Linked DNA regions of Homo sapiens: regions 2, 3 and 4 are each reported to be linked to region 1. The links are microRNA targets in miRTarBase. Many come from high-throughput screens and were not tested one by one. Region 1 holds a microRNA gene; each other region holds the end of a gene's coding sequence.

Region 1 (4,000 bases):
CGATGGTGATGATGAGGATGGTGATGGTGATGATAGTGATTGTGATGAGGATGGTGATGATAGTGATGGGATGATGGTGATGAGGATGAGGATGGTGATGATGGTGATGGTGATGGTGATAGTGATGAGGATAAGGATGGTGCTGCTCTGGTCGCCTGGGGATGATGATGGTGATAAGGATAGTGGTGATGATGATGGTGGTGATAGTGATAGTGATGATGGTGATGAGGATGGTGAGGGTGATGAGGATGGTGATGATGATAATGATGGTGATAGTGTTGGTGATGATGGTGTTGAGGCTGGTGATGGTGATGAGGATGGTGATGAGGATGATAGTGGTGGTGATAGTGATGGTGATGATGGTGTTGAGGATGGTGATGGTGATGATGATAGTGATGGTGATGATGGTGTTGAGGATGGTGTTGAGGATGGTGATGGTGATGAGGATGGTGATGAAGATGATGGTGGTGATAGTGATGGTAATGAGGATGGTAATGATGATAGTGGTGGTGATGATGGTGATGATGCTGCTGCTGATGATTATGGTGGTGATAGTGGTGGTGATGGTGATGAGGATGGTGATGGTGATGATGAGTATGTTTACAATGATGATAACAAGGACAGAAAATGCCTCCACAGCCTACTTTTCCTTCACAATCTTGGCTATGGGTCTGCAGGAGCATCCAGGCCTGAGGCCGTGGAGGGTGGTCCAGGGCATCCTGTTTGCAAGGAGGGACCGCACTCCCTTTCCTCTCTTGTTTCCTGCACCAAGTGTTCTCATCTTTAATATTTCTTTGTTATTAACTGTGAAGATCCCTTTAGCAGAGGCTGGAATCCTGATGTCCTGGGAAGTACATCGACACGGATCTGCCCAGGTCACCTCTTTCCAGGCCCTGTCCAGCCCAGGGAGGCAGCTTGATGTTAATGGGTCATAAGCCACCTTGGTGTGACCTGGCCAGAGTCCCTGATACAAGGTGCAGGGAGAGGCCTCGGCCCAGCCTCTGCAGGGTTCCAAGGTGGGTGGACTGGCATGGAGGGGCCCTGTCCCCAGAGACCCCCTACCTCAGTTAAACGGCTGCCCTCTTCAAAACTACCTGCACTGGATTTGTCTCCTCTGAAGTGCCACCCAAGTCCTTTCCTCCGAAGCCGGACTGTGTCATTCAGCACTTCCTCTGCTGTCCCCCTCTCCTTACAACCATTTTGTTCTCTTTGTGTGTATGTGTGTGTGTGTGTGTGCATGCATGTGTGTGTGTGTAATCCCAGCTACTCAGGAGGCTGAGGTGTGAGCCACCCCTCCCAACTTATTTGTGTTAGGTTGTCCTATTTTATGCATATTTGACTGTGAGACTCCTGACAGCCTCTTTAGAAAAATGATCATTTCTGTTTTGACCTGCAGAGTATTTCAGTATTTCTGAGTCTCTTTCTTGCCTAGAACCCCTCACCCTAGGCCTCCGTGAGATGCTGACCTTGCCCAGGTCTCCACAGAGCTGAGCCTGCACTGAGGTTGCTGGGCTCTGTTCACCTGGCTATGTGACTTCAGCAGGACCGTGGTCTTCTCTGACCCTTGGTTTCCTTTTCATTAGTGGGGGTCTGAGTGAACTGCTGGGGCCATTGTGAGGGTGAAGGTGGCAGCACCCACACTCGGCTTGCTCACAAACCAGGTCGGCAAACTGTTTGTGTGAATGGTGTGATACTAAATAATTCCAGCTTTGTGGGCCACACAGTGTGTCATAACAACTCAGCTCTGCTGTTGTTGCGGGAAAGCAGCCATGGACAATGCGTGAACACATAGGTGTGGCTGGCTGCCAATAGCACATCCTTTACAGAAGCAGCAGCCAGCCCTTGGGCCAGTTTGCCAGGTGCCAGTAGAATAGGAGGCCAAGGCCTGTCGGCTCTGACAAGGGTTCCACTCTGGCCCCCGGACACGGAGCTCTGGCCTTGGCTGGGGGAATTCCAATGGGAACATCCCAGGCTGAGGAGGATCCTCTCCTGCCTCTTAGATTCCTCATCCCCTGGGGAGTGCTGGATCCCACTGGCCCTGCCTGGCTGAGCTTCTCTGTGGTCTTAGCAGGCACTGCTTATGTGCCGTGGGCCAGCTGCTGCCCCCAGCTCAGTTTCTAATGTGAAGGGCTGGGCAGTCCCTGGGATGGCTCCAATGGGAGCCTGTCCAGCTGCTGTTCTGCTGACTGAGGCTGATCCAAGGCTGCTGAGAACAAGCCGGCAAGAGCCTCAGGACCCACACGTGTCTTTTCACAGCAGAATAAATTCTGCTCGGACAGAGGCCGCTCGCCTGCCTGGTTGATCATGTTTTACAAATGCTGAGGGCAAGAGAACACATGGGGATGTGCCTACACATCTTCCTCTGCCGCAGCGGCATGCAGACCCTCCAGCCGGGCCCTGGCTCCTGGGAGGGGCTCGCATCCCAGCAACCCTCTACTGCTCAGTGGACTCTGCCTGAGCCCTGACCAGCCCTGGGGGCTCTTATTGTGTGTTTCCGGTATGCACGCCTATCGTGTGCACCCCCAGGGGTCCCATTGCATGCACTGAGTCTGTGCTCCTGGCTCGTGCACCCTGAGCATGTGCTCTTGTACTTCCTCCTGCCCTGTCAAGGCCGACACTCTGGGCTCACAGGCAGTGGTCAGCCTTGTGCATGCAGCAGATCCAGGGTCCTGGGGGAGTGTGGGAGGGCTGGGGCTTAGGTCTGGATGCTAGCCCATGGGAGTGGATGTGGGCCCTGCAGGGCTAGGCACCAGGTAGCGGGCAGGGTCAGGCAGGCAGATGGGCATGGGAGGCAGGTGTATGGCAGTGCTGGGCCCAGACCTGGCTCAGAGTGCGTCCCCAGGGTGGGAGCAGGCCGGCCACCGGTCACTTGCTCATTAGTGTCCTCTGGGGACTCAGCTTGCTCTGGCTGCTGGATTGAATTAGCTGCAGGACCAAGATGAGCCCTTGGTGGAGACAGGATTCTCCAGATAATTAGGCAGCAGGTGTTTGTTGGCTCCTGGTGGAGCATGGAGGAGCAGGTGGGCTCAAGCCTCCTGTGGGGCAAGGGGGCACTGGCTGTGCCCTGGGCTGGGCGAGGCCTCCACTGGGCAGAGCCTCCAGGGGCCCCCAGTGTGGGGCTCACTGGGGTGGGAGCCGAGGAGGGTGCACCTCCAGTGAGGGGTGTATGGGCTGGATGGGGCAAGGTTCTGGAGCCCTCCACGCAGGCAGCCCAGCATTGACCAAAGATGAATCCTCGAGGCCTAGGTGCTAGGCCAAGGATCCTGCCCACTTGGGGCTCTGCCAAGACCCTTTGGCTGGTAGTGGGCTCCTGGGCTCCTGCCAACATCCTCATGCTGCCTGGGGCTGGCTCAGGCCTCTGTGGCTCCTAACTCTCCCATAGGGCACCTGCCATGCAGCAGGGTGGCTGCCCGTGGTCAGCTGGCCCTGGACCGTGAGTGCCTGGGACCCGGCTCCTCGGCCTGGTCTTGTATGGGCGGCACTCAGCACAGCACCTGGGACAGGGGCCACTTCACACCTTGCCAAGGTACGGAGGGAGGGCCAAGCGAGTGGATGATCCTGCACGGTGTGGCCCACGTTGATGTGTCCTTGGGGTGAGGGTGCCATCCAGGGCTGCCAGCTCTCACCTGGGCCAGGCCATCCTCTGCTAGCTTCAGTGTCTGTGACTTGAAAGGTGTACCCTCTCAGGTGCCCTGCTGGCTGGAAACAGGACTGTGGAGCTCAGGTTAGGAGCGGGGGTGGCTGAGCCTTTACTGCCCAGCAAGACCTTTTCGCACCCCTGGGGCCATGAGACTGGGAAGCCCGCTAGCCCTGGGGCTGTGGCTTCTCCTGCTTTACTTGTTATTATTTTTCTGATAATATCTTTAATTGCAAGATTTTGTGTACTTTTAGGCATGTTTCTTGTAAGTAGCATATGGTTGGATTTGACCTTGGATTGTGTTTGCTATTGATTATACCCACACCAGTTCTTATGTTCCTCATTTGTAAAATGGGTCAATAA
Region 2 (5,213 bases), not on the chromosome of region 1:
GCATGGGCAGAATCTTAGCTATAGGTTCTGTGTTGCAGCCACGGGCAGAACAGACAAATGGCTCTAAAGGGACAGCCAAAGCACCGCAACAGGGGAGGGCTCCTCAGGCCCAGCCAGCACCAGGACCTGGACCTGCAGGTGAGCCTATCCTTTGACACCCTTGGCTGTGGCCCAGAGCACCCAGGCTGTTCTCTCTCTATACCACCTGTGCCCTGAGCTCCCCCACACTGCATGCCCTCACTAATCCCTGAGAAGGTGCCCCAGGGGCTGTAGACCTCCCCAGCAGAAAACAAGCCTGGGGTTAGAATAAGCCAATGAGGTCACCAGCACAGGGGCTTTAGGGCCCAAGCAGCTTTGGGCAGAGAAGCAGGAAGGCACTGGTGAGCACAGGGTGGGGACCATGGCTTCTTGCTCCCTCCTTCCTTCCCCTTTCCTGCTCTTCTCTGCCTTTTTTTCCCTTTCTTCTTCTTTCCCTTCCTCAACCTCCTTTTTTCTGCCTTCTCCCACCCCTTGTCTTCCTGTTCTTACCTTCTTCTCTTTATTTCCCTAGCCTCCTTCTCACCTTCCCACCTTATAGGGTACCTGTGTTCAGATTCTCTCGTGGGTACTTGCCCTCTTAGACCCTAAAGAGCCAGGCCGTGCATAGCTCATTATGGCGATTTCTTTCCTCCTAGGTGTGAAGGCTGGAGCCAGGCCTGGAGGAACCCCAGGGGCTCCCGCCGGCCAGCCAGGTGCCGATGGGGAGAGCGTGTTCTCCAAGATCCTCCCTGGCGGGGCAGCCGAGCAAGCTGGCAAACTGACGGAAGGTATGCACTGCCTGCAACTGGTCTGTGGTGGGTGGCTACTCTGGTACAGGCTGGGTCTGTGAGATGATTCCAGACTCAGTCACCCAGGCAGAGGCCAGCCAGAGAGCCCACCTGCTGATGCCCAGTTGTTCTCCGGGCAATCTCTGCCCCTTGGGCTGAGCTTGCCTTCACTATGCCAAGTGGCCCTGACTGGGAGGGGTCTGGCCCAATTTCCTGATGGCTCTCTCCTCTTTCTTTGTCACAGCTGTCTCTGCTTTTGGCAAAAAATTTTCCTCATTCTGGTGACCATGCCCAGCATGGTGAGTACAAGCAGCCTGTACCTTGCCTCTTCTGGGAAAGGCCCGAGGCACTGGGGGTGGGGGTGGGGCTCTAAGTCCGAAGGGGTCCTCTGGGAGGAGTCCAGTCTTCGGCTGGTTCAGTACCCAGAGCTGCAATGTTCCCTTCTCTGAATGTGGGAGGAGAAAAAGGAGGGACACTGTGCACAGAGCCCCTACCATGGGGCCAACACAGTAGGGGTCCCCAGCAAAGGAGGGGCCAAAGCCAGGGCCAGTGCCCTGGCTTTCAAACCATCTGCCATCCCCTGCAGGGCTCTCACAGCACTGGGCTGGCACTGGGTTGTAGGTAGGCCTCCAGGGATGCAACTCCTCTCCAGCCCTCCTCTAAATGCTCCACAGGCTCTTGAAGAAATGAAGAGAGGTATCATTGCTGTGGAAAAATCTCTGGAGTCAGAGGCCTGGGCGCAGCTCTGGACTCTGCGTATAACAGTGAGTGTCAGGATCAGGGTGAGATGGGCCGGAGGAGGGGTGAAGGGCCAAGGCCTGGCTGATGACAGCTAGCCAGTTCTGACAAGTGTGAACTGGGAAGGGCCTGTTGGGTTTCCTTCAGCTGCGATGGGCCCAGCAGCCCTCTACCCCGCAGAGGCAGGGGCCACAGAGCTGCCTGAGATGGTGCCAGACAAGTCAGGTGGCACCCTTGGAGAAGAGCCCAGCACGGCTAACTGCACCTCACAACTTGAAGTCTATGTGCTGGGCACTGAGTTCAAAGTCATCCTGAAGGACCTGGTAGTCTGTGGCACCTGTAGGGGAACATGCTTCTTCCCTGATGTCTGCTGCTGGTGCCTTTGCTCCAGCCACTTGGAAGAGATTAGAGTCCCCAAACCCCACAGAGTCACATCTGCAGCTCTGGGAATGAAGTCAAAACACTCCTGGCTTCACAGGCTGAGCTTGTGGCCCACAGGATAGAAGAGTGGAAGGAGTAGAGAGGCAGACAGGAAGGGACATAGAGGAAAGGGAGTCTCAGCCCCAGACTAAGTCAGCTCAGGGAGAGGGCAGAAGGGCCTCAGGATGGGAGCCCTCACCCTGTCTGGGCTGCAGTGGCCAAGGCAGGTTGGGACACCACTTCCTGGAGCCTGTCCTGGCCCTGGCCCTGGCCCTGGCCTTGGCCCTGCCTCTGTGGGAGGAGGAGGAAGTGCATCATCCTGGGTGGGAGGAGAATCACCTGGCTGTTGGTACAGCTCTGTGCACAGCCAGGACCACTGACCATCATCCCATAGCCCTCGGACCCTCCTCTTCTCCCTCCTTGCCCCTTCAGGGTGCTTCTCACGGTGCACAAGCATGTATGTGTTATCCATGGCGGGGCCTGGCGGTCAGTGAGCAGGTCACTTCAAGGGAGCCCTGGGGCTGGCAGATGCTGGGCCCGGGCCAGCACTGGTTGTGGGAGGGAAGGAGCTAGGTGTGATACCTCACAGGCTACCTTTCTCTGGAAAAGCAGTGGGGCCCTGGAAAGGCCCAGGCTTCCGTCCATTTATTCAACAAATGTTTGTCAAGCCCCAGGTATGTGCCAGGCACTCTTCCAGGATCTGGGGATATGGCAGAGAACAAAACCAAGTCCCTGCCCTCTGAAGCTGACAATCCATTAAAGGAGATAGAGAATAAATAAGTTTAAAAATAAAATTCAATTAAAAAGGTACTTTCTGAAAGTGATGAGTGTTATAAAGCCAGAGAAGCAGAGCTATGGAAGCAGTGGGGTCTGCTCTAGACAAAGTGCTCAGAGCAGAAGATATGTGAGGGAAGCTTGAGGGAGGAGGACGACTGCGGTGGGATGAAAAAAGGGGAGGGAACAGCACTGACGGATGATCGGATGCTGGGATGGGACCAGGGACAGGGCAAAGGCCAGTATAGCCAGGGCCACAGTGGAGGGGAGAGGTGGTCAGGGGTAAAGTCCAAGGGGGTGGGAGCCAGCTGGGGTGGGTTGTGCAGGCCAAGTAAGGAGCCTGGAATTTATTCTAATTACAGTAGCCATAGTGCAGCCCTTAGCGTTCTTCCTGCCTTCACCCTCCCACAGCGGGCTTCCTGCGGCTTCCCGCTCAGCTGATGTTTCCTTGGAGTTGCCCTGGAACAGATGTGAAATCACAAGTGGTGCTGAAAGTGGGGGAAGGAGGGACAGCCCATGGCCTGGATTCATGACAGTACCTACCTTGGGTTTGGGGCCAGGGTATGGCTCCTGAGCAGGGAAAGGAAGCACAGACACAGCTTTGTTCTGCGTCCTGCCACATGGTGTGGTTGGGCCACTGAGACCACTGACTTTATAGTTAAAGAAATCTCCCTTGAGTTCTAGCATTCGGCTAATGATTGGGTCAAGTGGACAGTGCTGCCGTGAGTATCCCTCTCCTGAAATTCTTTACGGCAATTTCAGAGATGGGCTTGGAGAGGTTTGCCATTTCAAACCAAATCCCTTCTCCATCACTCTTAAGCCAAAAAAAAAAAAAAAAAAGGAACTTTTGTTACATTAAAAGAAGTGTCCCTTCCTGGCTGACCTGATTCTTCTTTCTTGCTGTCCTCTCTGTGACCTCCAACCTGCCCAAGCACCCATCTCCCCAAGCCTGAGTGGCATGGCACCCCGTGGGTGAGGAGGTGGCCGCTAGCACAGGCAGATGGCTGAGAGGAATGTGAGGGTGAGAAGCAGCTATCTACAATTCTTGACAGAATCCTTTCTTTTCTTCTTTCCTTCCTCCCTCCCTCCTTTTCTCTTTCAAGCATCTACAATCTGGCAAACCCTTGGCCCAAAGACTCACCAGGTGGGACGTGGCAGGCAGGCCTCAGTTGAGGACGTGATGTTTTCTCACAGCAGCTGCCTGGGTGAAGCATCTGCTGGACAAGTCGGACCACTGGCCAGGGGACCTTTGATTGTCTTTCCAGAGATGCTGCTCTCTGCAGGGCACCACCTTCAAGGCACAGCCCTTGTTGGGAGGGAGAACCCTCTCCAGAAACCCTGCCACCATGGTGTCTTGCCGTACTTCCCACAGCCGCCTTTTTGCGGCCTGGCCGGCCAGGCTTCCCGTGCGTTATACACAGAGTTTGGGCACACACTGCCCTCCCTCCGAGATGCCAGAAGTTTTTCCACAGCCTTGGAGAGGGGCTTTGACTGAGGGCTGGGGGCCCTGGGCTCCGTTTCCTTCACATTCCAGCTGGCCCGGATCCCTCTGTGGCACAGGGCCCTGCCCGTCACATGCCCTCTGGGTGACATCGGAGCAGACCTCCATGTGGCCAGGGGTTGGGAGAACTTTACAAACATTAGGACCTAACACTGTCTCATCGCTGAAATAAGAGGCCATAGCACCGAAAAGCAGCGTGGGCGCCGGCTGAGGCTTCTCCCAGCCCGTGGGTGGCAGCGTGCTAGCACACTGCCACCATCTCAAAGCCATCCCCCTAGCCATCGTGAGCATCCCAGCGGCACCGCCATTGTCTCAACCAGCCGGCTCCTCGTCTGTACACCTGGGGATTTCTTTTGATTTCAAGAACAGCCTTAATCATTCCAGTTTGATTTACGTGTATACCTCATAAACATTTTTCTTTTGTTTCTCTCTCCCCCTTTCTCTCTTCTCTTGGCTCACTCCCTTGCCTCTCCCCCTCCACCACCACCTTGTGACTGATGGTTTGGTTTCCTCTCTGCTCTGCCCCTGCTCAGCACAGGGAGAATGTTGACTTAGAAGCAATAGGGGGCAGCAGGCCACCAAGAGCACAACCCCAGGGCGAGGTCTGGGGAGGCCTCCCAGCCCGCCTCTGTTTACTGTGCAATTCCAGTCGTTCTTAAGCCATCACCAGTGGGTGTACTCAGAGCAGAGGGGCCAGGACTTCTGCCAGCCAAGGGAAAGGCCCAGAGCCCTGTGCGGGGGAATGTGGCACTGTCTATCCATCCGGTGGACTGGGCAGCATTCCTCCCCAGGGCTCTTCCCTTGGGGGCCTCCTTTCATCTGGGGCACAGCCACAAGTCTCATCTCTAACGTTCTATGCAATGAAATATAAACCCTCAATGACAACTGTTAATATTTAATAAATTCCATGTTATGTATAAGGAGTTAATTGCAAACATGCAATTGAGAAACTGGATAGATACACTCATAAAACC
Region 3 (4,000 bases), not on the chromosome of region 1:
AAGATTTCTGAAAGACAGGAGCTAGTAAGATGTTCTATTTCTTCTGATAGCAGTTTTTTCCTAGTAATTTGTCAATTGCATTTAACGTTTCCCACTGACTTCTGAGACAGCCTCAAGTTTTCATGTCTGAAGGGTTCGTAGATTCTGACATTGTAATTTGTCCCTGCTCTCTTTTCTCTGACTAGTGTACCAGGGCTTTCTCAAGTGTACTAATCTTCTCAAAGAATCCAATTTTAAGTCCTGGAATTCACTATGACAAACACTTCAGAAACAAGGCATAGAAAACGTTGGTAGAGATGCAAGGTACTGCAGCAAGGTGACGAGCACCTTGACCCAAGTCGTGTGAGGAATGTCATGCCCCTTGGCCGGGCATAGTGGCACATGCCTGTAATCCCAGCTACTCGGGAGGCTGAGGCGGGAGAATCGCTTGAACCCAGGAGGCAGAGGTTGCAGTGAGCCGAGATCATGCCACTGCACTCCAGCCTGGGTAACAAAAGCGAAATTCTATCTCAAAAAAAAAAAAAAAAAACAAAAAAAAAAACAAGGCCGGACGCGGTGGCTCACACCTGTTATCCCAGCACTTTGGGAGGCCGAGGCAGGCGGATCACGAGGTCAAGAGATTGAGGCCATCCTGGCCAACATGGTGAAACCCCATCTCTACTAAAAATACAAAAATTAGCTGGGCGTGGTGGTGTGTGCCTGTAATCCCAGCTACTTGGGAGGCTGAGGTAGGAGAATCACTTGAACCCGGGAGGCAGAGGTTCCAGTGAGCCAAGATCACACCACTGCATTCCAGCCTGGGCGACAAGAGTGAAACTCCGTCTCAAAAAAAAAAAAAAAATTGCACGGCCCTTCCAGCCTTTTTCTGCAGGGCAATACAGGGGCTTTAAAACAATTCACCTCCCTTCATCCATGGCCGAAGTTACACAGTAATGTTTTCCAGTATATTGTTTTTAAAGTTTCAATGAAACGATTTATGTATGTTTATTATTCTCTTTGTCCATCGCTCCATCTTACTCTAGGCACCTCCCCTGGATTCATACTCCTGCTCTTCAAGAAAAATTCCTAACAATTCCCGGTAAAGGAGGTGTCATCGGAAATGACAGCTTTTTTTTCTTTTGTGAGACAGGGTCTTGCCCTGTCACCCAGGCTGGAGTACGGTGGTATAATCATAGCTCACTTCAGCTCAACCTCTTGGGCTCAAGTGATACTCTCACTTCAGGAACTCAAGTAGCTGGGACCACAGGTGCGTGCCACCACACCCAGCTCATTGTTTTGTATTTTTTTGTAGAGATGGGGTCTCACTATATTGCCCAGTCTTGTCTCTAACTCCTGGGCTCGAGCAATCCTCCCACCTCAGCCTCCCAAAGCGCTGGGATTATAGGCGTGAGCCACCGCACCCGGCCTCAATTTTTGTTTATACATTTTTTTAAGTATCACCTAATTCTTTATTTTTGTAATTTTGAGATAATTTATATGCCAACAAATTCGCCCTTTTAAGTGAAGGATTCAGCGACTTTCAATTCCACAGCATTCTAATCACCCAAAAAGAAACCCCACGCCCATTCGCAGTCACTCCCAATCCTGCCTCACCCCAGTCCTTGGCAACCACGAACCGGTCTCTCTGCAGTTGTCTTTTCTGGACATTTCGTATCAATGGAATCAAACAGTAAGTGGTCCTCTGCACGTGGCTTCACTTGGCACAGCTCCTCTGAGTGCTGGCCGGGATGCAGCACGCATCCATGTTCTGTTCCTTCACGTGGCTGGATGACGTCCCATTCTTTGGACAGTCAGCTTTGTTTCTCCCTTCATCTGCTGATGGAAACCCAGGTTGCGTCTACCCTGTGGCTGGTATGAGCCGTGCTGCTGGGCACAGCCAGGCACAAGTGCATGTGTGAGCAGCTGTCTTCAGAGCTCCGGGGTGGATCCCCACAAGTGGAACTGCTGGGTCAATTGGTGGCATGTCACTAGCATCCTGAACAACAGGTTCACTGAAGACCCAGCCCCACACCGAGAGCTCCCTCCTCTGCACCAGTGGCTCCCCCTCCACCCAGCGGCCAGTGGGTGCCCACGCCTGCTGCCTTGCTTTCATCCCATCGCAGGCATCTGTCCTTTCTCTCTGGCTGCTGTCAAAATTATCTCTGCCTGTGATACTTGAGTGTGTCGAGGCAGAGACTGATGTTCGTTTCTCCTTGGGGTTCTATTCTACTTCCTGAATCCTTGAAATGCATCTTCCTTCTGTTCTCTCCATTCTCTCCTGGGATTCCAGTCATACACGTGTGGATTTGACTTTCTACACCCTGCCTCCCAGCTGGTCCTTTCTGTCTCCTGGAGAGTGGCCAAGCTCCGGTGACCTCCTGGGAGGCCTCGGCCCGGCTCCTTGTGGTGGCCATCTTCAGAGGCGGCCCCACCACGATGGAGACGCAGAACCCATGAGCGCCATCCCCCTTTCGAGAGCAGCTCATCCCAGACCCTCACCCCCAAGGGGACCCAGCCCAGGATCCTGACGGGGTGGAGCAGGCTGGAGCTACGACCGTCTGGATGGCAACGCGGAACTCCTCCCAGAGAAAGCCCAGAGAGGCCCCGCTCTAAGTCAGCGAACACGGCTTCACGTAGGCCCTTCCCAAGCCCCTAACGCAACTGCCACAACGGTGTAGGTGAAGCAGTCCAGGCCCGGCTGGTCACCAGGGATTCAACTGCCTCTGGCACTTCTATTTGCAGATATTATCTCTGCCTTAAAAAAATCTGTAAATAGTAGGGCCTGCCCCTGTGGCTGCAACTTTCTCTAAGGACCCCAGGACTGTGCCTTCTGGAGCTGGCAGAACTCTGTGGTTTATGAGAACAAGAAGTTCCACAGCTGTGTCCTAAACCAGGTTTCCCCTCGGCAGTGCCTACAACACGGAAACAGAACTGACTGTCCCGGGGTGCCCACACCTACTGTCTGCACAGTGGAGAGGGCAGCAGCGTGGCCTGAAGGCCAGCGAGCCCAACCCCCCAGGGACAGGCACTCTCTGGCGAACCGTCTCGCAGGAGGAAAAGCGTAAGGCTGCTGTGGTCATAAATACATTTTATTTCATTAGAAATGCATAATTACAGTGTTTAAGAGCATTTCCCCTAGAAAAGTAGGTCAGCAATACCCCATCGGAACCGAGAGCTGGCTTTGCAAACACCTGCCTCATGACACTGGACAGAGCACACAGCAAAGGGCTCCCGTCTCATGACACTGGACAGAGCACACAGCAAAGGGCTCCCGTCTCATGACACTGGACAGAGCACACAGCAAAGGGCTCCCGTCTCATGACACTGGACAGAGCACACAGCAAAGGGCTCCTGCTACTCCCCTGGGATTTTTTTTTTCAAATTTTCTTTTTTGTTATAAACACCATAGCAAATTAAAAAAAGCTGTTTAAACAGAAAAATATCATAGTTCTTGATTTCCCGCGCATATGCGACGCTCTCCGCACCGTGCCTCCCCTCGTGCTCCGACACCAACAGCAGGACTCAAACGAAAGGGGTCTCCGGCTGGGGGCGGCGGCGGCTGCTCTTTCAGTTGATAGGATGCTGTTCCCCGCGGAGGCAGCGGCCTTCAGACGCACTTCAGCAGAACACGTGCAGCCGCTGCCTGTGCCGAGGCCGTGAGAGCAGGGCGCGTGGGGGCCGGGCCGTAGGCGGAGCCGGCGAGGGGCTCCTGGTGCCATGGGCACCGCTCACTGAATCTGGATGGCCCCGTGCTCGAGCTGCATCTCCGGCTGTAGCGTGGGCTGCAGGGCTTCGGCCGTCTGCAAAAGGGAGAAAGGAGGGACTTTCTAGAAAAATACCCAGCACTGCATGGCCAGGGGGTGTCATGAACAGCCAGTGACTTTAAGGCAGAATGAGAAACACGCACACAGGAGCGCGAAGGAGCCCTGACGGCCCCAAGGCTCACCCGACTTGGTACACAACGCCTGGCTCCCAGCGGAACGACGCGCCCACGACCCTGGCGCCCAGGGAGGCTCCGGCA
Region 4 (5,213 bases), not on the chromosome of region 1:
CCGAGTAGCTGGGATTACAGGCATGAGCCACCACACCTGGCTAATTTTGTATTTTTAGTAGAGACGGGGTTTCTCCATGTTGGTTAGGCTGGTCTCGAACTCCCGACCTCAGGTGATCCGCCCACCTCAGCCTCCCAAAGTGCTGGGATTATAGGTGTGAGCCACCACACCCGGCCTATTTTTATTTTTTTAGAGACAAGGTCTCGCTCTGTCACCCAGGCTGGAGGGTAGTGGCACGATTATAGCTCACTAACTGTAGTTAGTCACCAACTCCTGGTGTCAAGCGATCCTCCCGCCTCAGCCTCCTGAGTAGCTACGACCACAGGCATGCACTACGACAACTTATTTATATATTTACTTATTTATTTATTTATTTATTTTGTAGGGACGGTGTCTTGCTATGTTGTCCAAGCTGGTCTCAAACTGGCCTGAATCAATGCTTCCACCTCAGCTGCCAGAGGAACCGGGATTACAGGCCTGAGCCACTGCAGCCAGCCAGTTTGTTATTTTAATGTAAATTCTTAGTAAACAACTCAGGAGCTCTCTTGTCCTTTTAAAATCCATTTCAACTTCTGCTAATCGGAGTGTATATTCAGGGCAACTTGAATCTGTGCTCCTGGGATGCAATCCTCAAGCTTGGCCCAAATAAAGTCTCCGCTGATATTAATTTTGCCTAGGCTTCTTCCTTTTAGGTCAACACTCTTCAGGCTCATGTTGGGGTCTGTTCAGCTGCGTTTCAAAGGGACTCTAGACCCAGGAAGGCCCAGAACCACTGATGCTGAGTAACACCCTTGGCCTTCTGGTCTCAGTTGCTATGGCCTTGGGCATGCTAGGACAGGCAAGTGAGTTTCACTGGGGCATGTGTTGTTGGGTGGATGTTTCAGCTTCTTTTCTTTTTTTTTTTTTTTTTTTTTTTTTTGAGACAGACTCCTGCTCTGTCTCCCAGGCTGGCATGCAGTGGCACGATCTCGGCTCACTGCAACCTCCACCTCCCAGGTTCAAGCAATTCTCCTGCCTCAGCCTCCCTCCCCAGTAGCCGGGATTACAGACATGCGCCACCATGCCCAAGTAATTTTTGTATTTTTAGTAGATATGGGATTTCTCCATGTTGGCCAGGCTAGTCTCAAACTCCTGACCTAAAATGATCCACCCGCCTTGGCCTCCCACGGTGCTGGGATTACAGGTGTAAGCCACCCCGCCTGGCCTGTTATGTTTTTTAACATTGGTCTTTCGGCCACCAAGAGCCCAGGAAGGCCACACGCACAGCTCTGCCAGGTGCAGCCCAGATGTCCAGGGCTCTCTGGTCCAGGACACCGTGGCCTGGTCTGCCCTTATCTCCAGGCCTGAAGCCCCACCTGTCCAACCTGGAGACAGCTATGCAAGGTTCTCTTGCCAGGTGCTGTTTAATCTTGGGCCCTCCAGGGCCTGGAGCAGCTTCCAGGGCCAGTCCTCCGTGCCCCCACCCAAGGACGTCCTCACTCCAGCAAGCTCAGCCACATGCTCAGCAGTCAGGGCCACTGAGGCCACAGCCCCACCGCCACCCACACCAGGCTGTCCTAGAGGGCCACCCCAGCCCTGGAAGCCCTCTCAACCCTTCCTAGAGGCCCAGCCAGTGGCAACAGACCTTGGAGGGGACACTTCCTCTAGAGGCCTTGCTTGGCCTCAGCCAGCCCAGATAATAGCCCAGGAGCAGAGGAAACAGGCAGCAGAGTGACAGAGACGGAGCTGGGCTTCCCCGATAGCAGGGAGCTGCCTGGGTAGCGTGGGGTGCACAGCCAGTGGGGTGGGCTATTTGCTACCACCACCCCCTATTTACTAATGGAGACACTCATTAGCTCACAGGTGCCCTGTAGGAAGCTCCACGTCTGTTTTCTCATTTGTATGATGAGAGGATAAAGAGGTGGTATCCGGGAAAGAAAGGGGCTTTGTGTTATGCGTGTCCATGAGGACAACACTGTACCCCCGAGTTTGGCAGGAGAGGAGAGGCAGGCAGTTTACCAGGGCAGCTCGAGGTGCAGTCAGCCTCCTTCCCTGCCCCCACCTGGGACCCCTGAAGGGGTGGCAGGTTGTGGGAGAGAACCACAGTGACAGAGGTTGGTGGGCAGCACGACTCGGGTAGGCTGAGCACCTGCAACCCTGGGCAGGGAGGCTGGCTCCCCTCCTACTGAGTGTCTGTTCTCACAGACGTGACCACAAGCACCCAGCCCCTCCACCTTCAGCAAGCAGCTCCCTGGATGCACCCTCCCTCCCAACACATCTCCACCTCCACCTCCTGGGCATTGCTGTCATCATGGGTCCTGCTCCCTGCTGCCCATCTGGTGCCTCTCCCAGCCTCCCAGCTTGGGGGCTGCACACGGTAGCCCATGGCCAAGGTGCCTGTAGGGTGGAAGGCAAGCTGCTCATCAGCTTCAGAGAGCCCACTGACCTCCAGGCATCCTCTCTTGTCCCCAACATTCCCCCCCTACTCCTGCTACCCACCTTGCTGCGGCAGCATGGGATTGTCCCACCCTCCACCCCTAGGGCTATGGGGCTCACCCCTAGGGCTATGGGCCTCCCTCCGCCTCCCACTTGAGGCGCCACTCCCACTGCCTCAAGGGTCATTTGCTCTATGAGGCCCTGCTTTGACCTTCTCCCTGACCTCTCAAGAGTGTGGCCTGCCTGAGTCAGCAGTGGGGGCTGACCCCTGGGGACCACTACGCAGGAAGTGCCTGGGAGCCAGGTATTGATGTGGTTCATGGCAGGGCAGCTCCACGCGGTGATGGAATGCGGACTCCCTGTAGGTGGCTGAGAGGCAGCAGCAGTCCACACCTCACCAATTCTTGTGAGGGCTGTTACCACACCTGGGGTGGGCAGGCAGGCAGCATCGCGCAGGGCACAGAGGCCCCCTAGACTCCACGCAGTGGGGCCTCACCATCACAGGCGTGGCTTCCCTGCACCAAGGGGCAGAGGCCCAGGAGCAGGGCCTGCCGTGGCAATGGCCCCCATCCCCACACCCTGCTGGTGTCCCCACTTGAGGCCCCTCACACCCAGCCACCACTGGTCAGGCCTCACCAGCATCTTCTCCCCTCCACAGCTCACCTAGACTCTTCCCCCAGGGAGCCCTCCTGGAATGAGCAAGTGCTGTGCCAGAGCCCCTCTCCCTGTCCATCAGATGGTCCTAAAGTGACCTGAGCTCTTCCTGGGATGAGGGTGTGCCCAGGAGGGGGTCAAGTCTGAAAGGATGGTGGGGCTGGGCCCCGGCAGGAATGCTGGGAGCCAAGCTTCCCGCCATGGGGTTTCCAGACTAAATGGCATCAGGCAGCACCCAGAGAGCAGGTACAAAGGCCACACTGTGCGCCACATGCCATCGGCCAGGCCTCGCCCTCTGTGCTGCCTCTGTGGGGAGCGCTTCTTCCCTTCCTCTTCAGATTGCTGGCTCCTTCTCAGTGCTCAGTAACACCTGCCTCAAGGCTGGGCACAGTGGCTCACACCTGTAATCCCAGCACTTTGGGGGGTGGAGGCGGGTGATCACCTGAGGTCAGGAGTTCGAGACCAGCCTGGCCAACATGGTGAAACCCCGTCTCTACCAAAAATACAAAAACTTAGTCGGGCGTGGTGGCAGACACCTGTAATCCCATCTACTGGGGAGTCTGAGGCAGGAAAATCGCTTGAACCTGGGAGGCAGAGGTTGTGGTGAGCCGAGATCATGCCACTGCACTCCAGCCTAGGGGACAGAGTGAAACTGTCTCAAAAAAAAAAAAAAAAAAAAACTTCCCTTGAAAGGCCCTCCCTAGCTCCCCCTTAATTAAGCAGGACCCCCTACATTCTCCCTTTCAGCCCATCTGCGCCCTCACCATTCTCACCCAGTCTGTGATGATGCCAGAATGCCTGGCGCTCAGCGAAACAGCCATTCATAACCAAGGAGATGGCCGCAAACCACAAGTGTTTATTGCAGAAATCTGGCCAACATTCCAATTGCAGGGCCCCAGCACAGGGCTGGGCAGGTGAGATAGGGAGGGGTGGAGGAAGTAATCTGGCCCAGGGCCTCAGAGCTGTGAGATGATATTGGGTGCCAGGCTGCAGGTGAGGCCTGTGCCATCTGGTTCCACATTCAGGGCCTTCACTATGCCATCCTGTACCACCATGGAGAACCTGCCGGAAAGAGGGGCCCAGCCAGCTGCATCAGCCTGGGCTTGGAGGCTGGGCATGGAGACAGGCAGTGAACAGCCAGGGGCCCAAGAGAACTCCAGAGAGGACTCCCCCCACAGAGGACTCTCCCCCACAGAGGACTCACCACCACACAGGACTCTCTCCACACAGAGGACTCTCCCCACAGAGAACTCTCCCCCACACAGGACTCTCTCCCCAGAGGACTCTCCCCTACAGAAGACTCTCCCCACACAGGACTCTCTCCCACACAGGACTCTCTCCACACAGAGGACTCTCCCCACAGAGGACTCTCCCCCACACAGGACTCTCCCCCACAGAGGACTCTCTCCACAGAGGACTCTCCCCACACAGGACTCTCCCCACAGACGACTCTCCCACACAGAGGACTCTCCCCCACAGACGACTCTTCCCACAGAGGACCCTCTCCACAGAGGACTCTCTCCCACAGAGGACTCTCTCCCACAGAGGACTCTCTCCACAGAGGACTCTCCACTTTTACCTCTTGAGACGTCGATTCCCAAAGATGGACACCAGCGAATCATCTAGTAATAAGTCTGTCTCCTAAGAAGAGACAGAGAAAAGTGTCAGAAATCCTTGAAGAGGCTAAGGGCCCCCACTGCTCCCCGCACTGCCATGTCCCTGTGGCGGTCAGGGGAACACTCACCTTCCCAAAGGCCCCAGTGGGATCAGCCAGGAGCCGAACCTGCAGAGAAAGTAAAGGTCACAAGAAGAATATCCTACCTGGTCCTGACTCCCTGCAGGCCCCTCACCTCACCTTGCCTTCCGCCTTGTGGGCTCGGCCCCACTCGCCAGTCACAAAGGCATCATTAACACTCAGACAGGCCACCACCTGGACTCCCTTGGCCTTCAGAGCCTCAGCCTGCTCCACAAACCCTGGCAGGTGTGTCTGAGGAAGGGGAACAAAGGGTCGGCAAAGGGATAACTGCATCTGACCCCCAGCCCACCCTTTATCTCCAGGCCCTCCTCAGTGCTCTGCCTCAACACCTTTGATCAGACAATGAGAGCTGTCTAAACCATTCTATTTCCTTTTTGCCTTGGCCACT

The links. Region 1 holds the annotated microRNA hsa-miR-1286 (UGCAGGACCAAGAUGAGCCCU, at 2,927-2,947, shown strand). A microRNA usually pairs through its seed, bases 2 to 8, with sites in the 3' UTR of a target mRNA and lowers its output. Matches are read on the target gene's strand: a 7mer-m8 pairs with bases 2 to 8, a 7mer-A1 pairs with bases 2 to 7 and ends in A, and an 8mer does both.
Region 2: the mRNA of BSN is a reported target of hsa-miR-1286. The part of its 3' UTR that is shown has no 7-base or 8-base seed match.
Region 3: miRTarBase lists BANP as a target of hsa-miR-1286. Seed matches in the 3' UTR shown: 7mer-m8 at 3,495-3,501.
Region 4: the mRNA of PRDX5 is a reported target of hsa-miR-1286. The part of its 3' UTR that is shown has no 7-base or 8-base seed match.

The regions. Positions count from the first base shown.
Region 1 is chr22:20,248,092-20,252,091 of GRCh38, reverse strand. MIR1286 (microRNA 1286) reads left to right here and starts at 2,881; the gene lies at 2,881-2,958. The region is part of intron 1 of RTN4R (reticulon 4 receptor); the gene reads left to right. RefSeq lists an enhancer at 3,321-3,922.
Region 2 is chr3:49,663,749-49,668,961 of GRCh38, forward strand. It overlaps BSN (bassoon presynaptic cytomatrix protein), which reads left to right. Exons shown (of 12, transcript NM_003458.4): 8 at 39-138; 9 at 675-806; 10 at 1,051-1,105; 11 at 1,481-1,570; 12 at 3,842-5,213. The coding sequence ends at 1,091. Among named protein-coding and RNA genes, the nearest start is that of APEH, 8.0 kb to the right of the region's middle. RefSeq lists a silencer at 2,848-3,142 and an enhancer at 2,848-3,142.
Region 3 is chr16:88,076,369-88,080,368 of GRCh38, reverse strand. It overlaps BANP (BTG3 associated nuclear protein), which reads right to left. Exons shown (of 14, transcript NM_001386991.1): 14 at 3,053-3,779. The coding sequence ends at 3,708. Among named protein-coding and RNA genes, the nearest start is that of LINC02182, 120 kb to the left of the region's middle.
Region 4 is chr11:64,320,504-64,325,716 of GRCh38, reverse strand. It overlaps PRDX5 (peroxiredoxin 5), which reads right to left. Exons shown (of 6, transcript NM_012094.5): 3 at 4,925-5,056; 4 at 4,814-4,852; 5 at 4,649-4,710; 6 at 3,906-4,131. The coding sequence ends at 4,026. It overlaps LOC102723878 (a long non-coding RNA gene), which reads left to right. Exons shown (of 4, transcript NR_188518.1): 4 at 386-667. Among named protein-coding and RNA genes, the nearest start is that of PRDX5, 5.0 kb to the right of the region's middle. RefSeq lists a silencer at 225-377.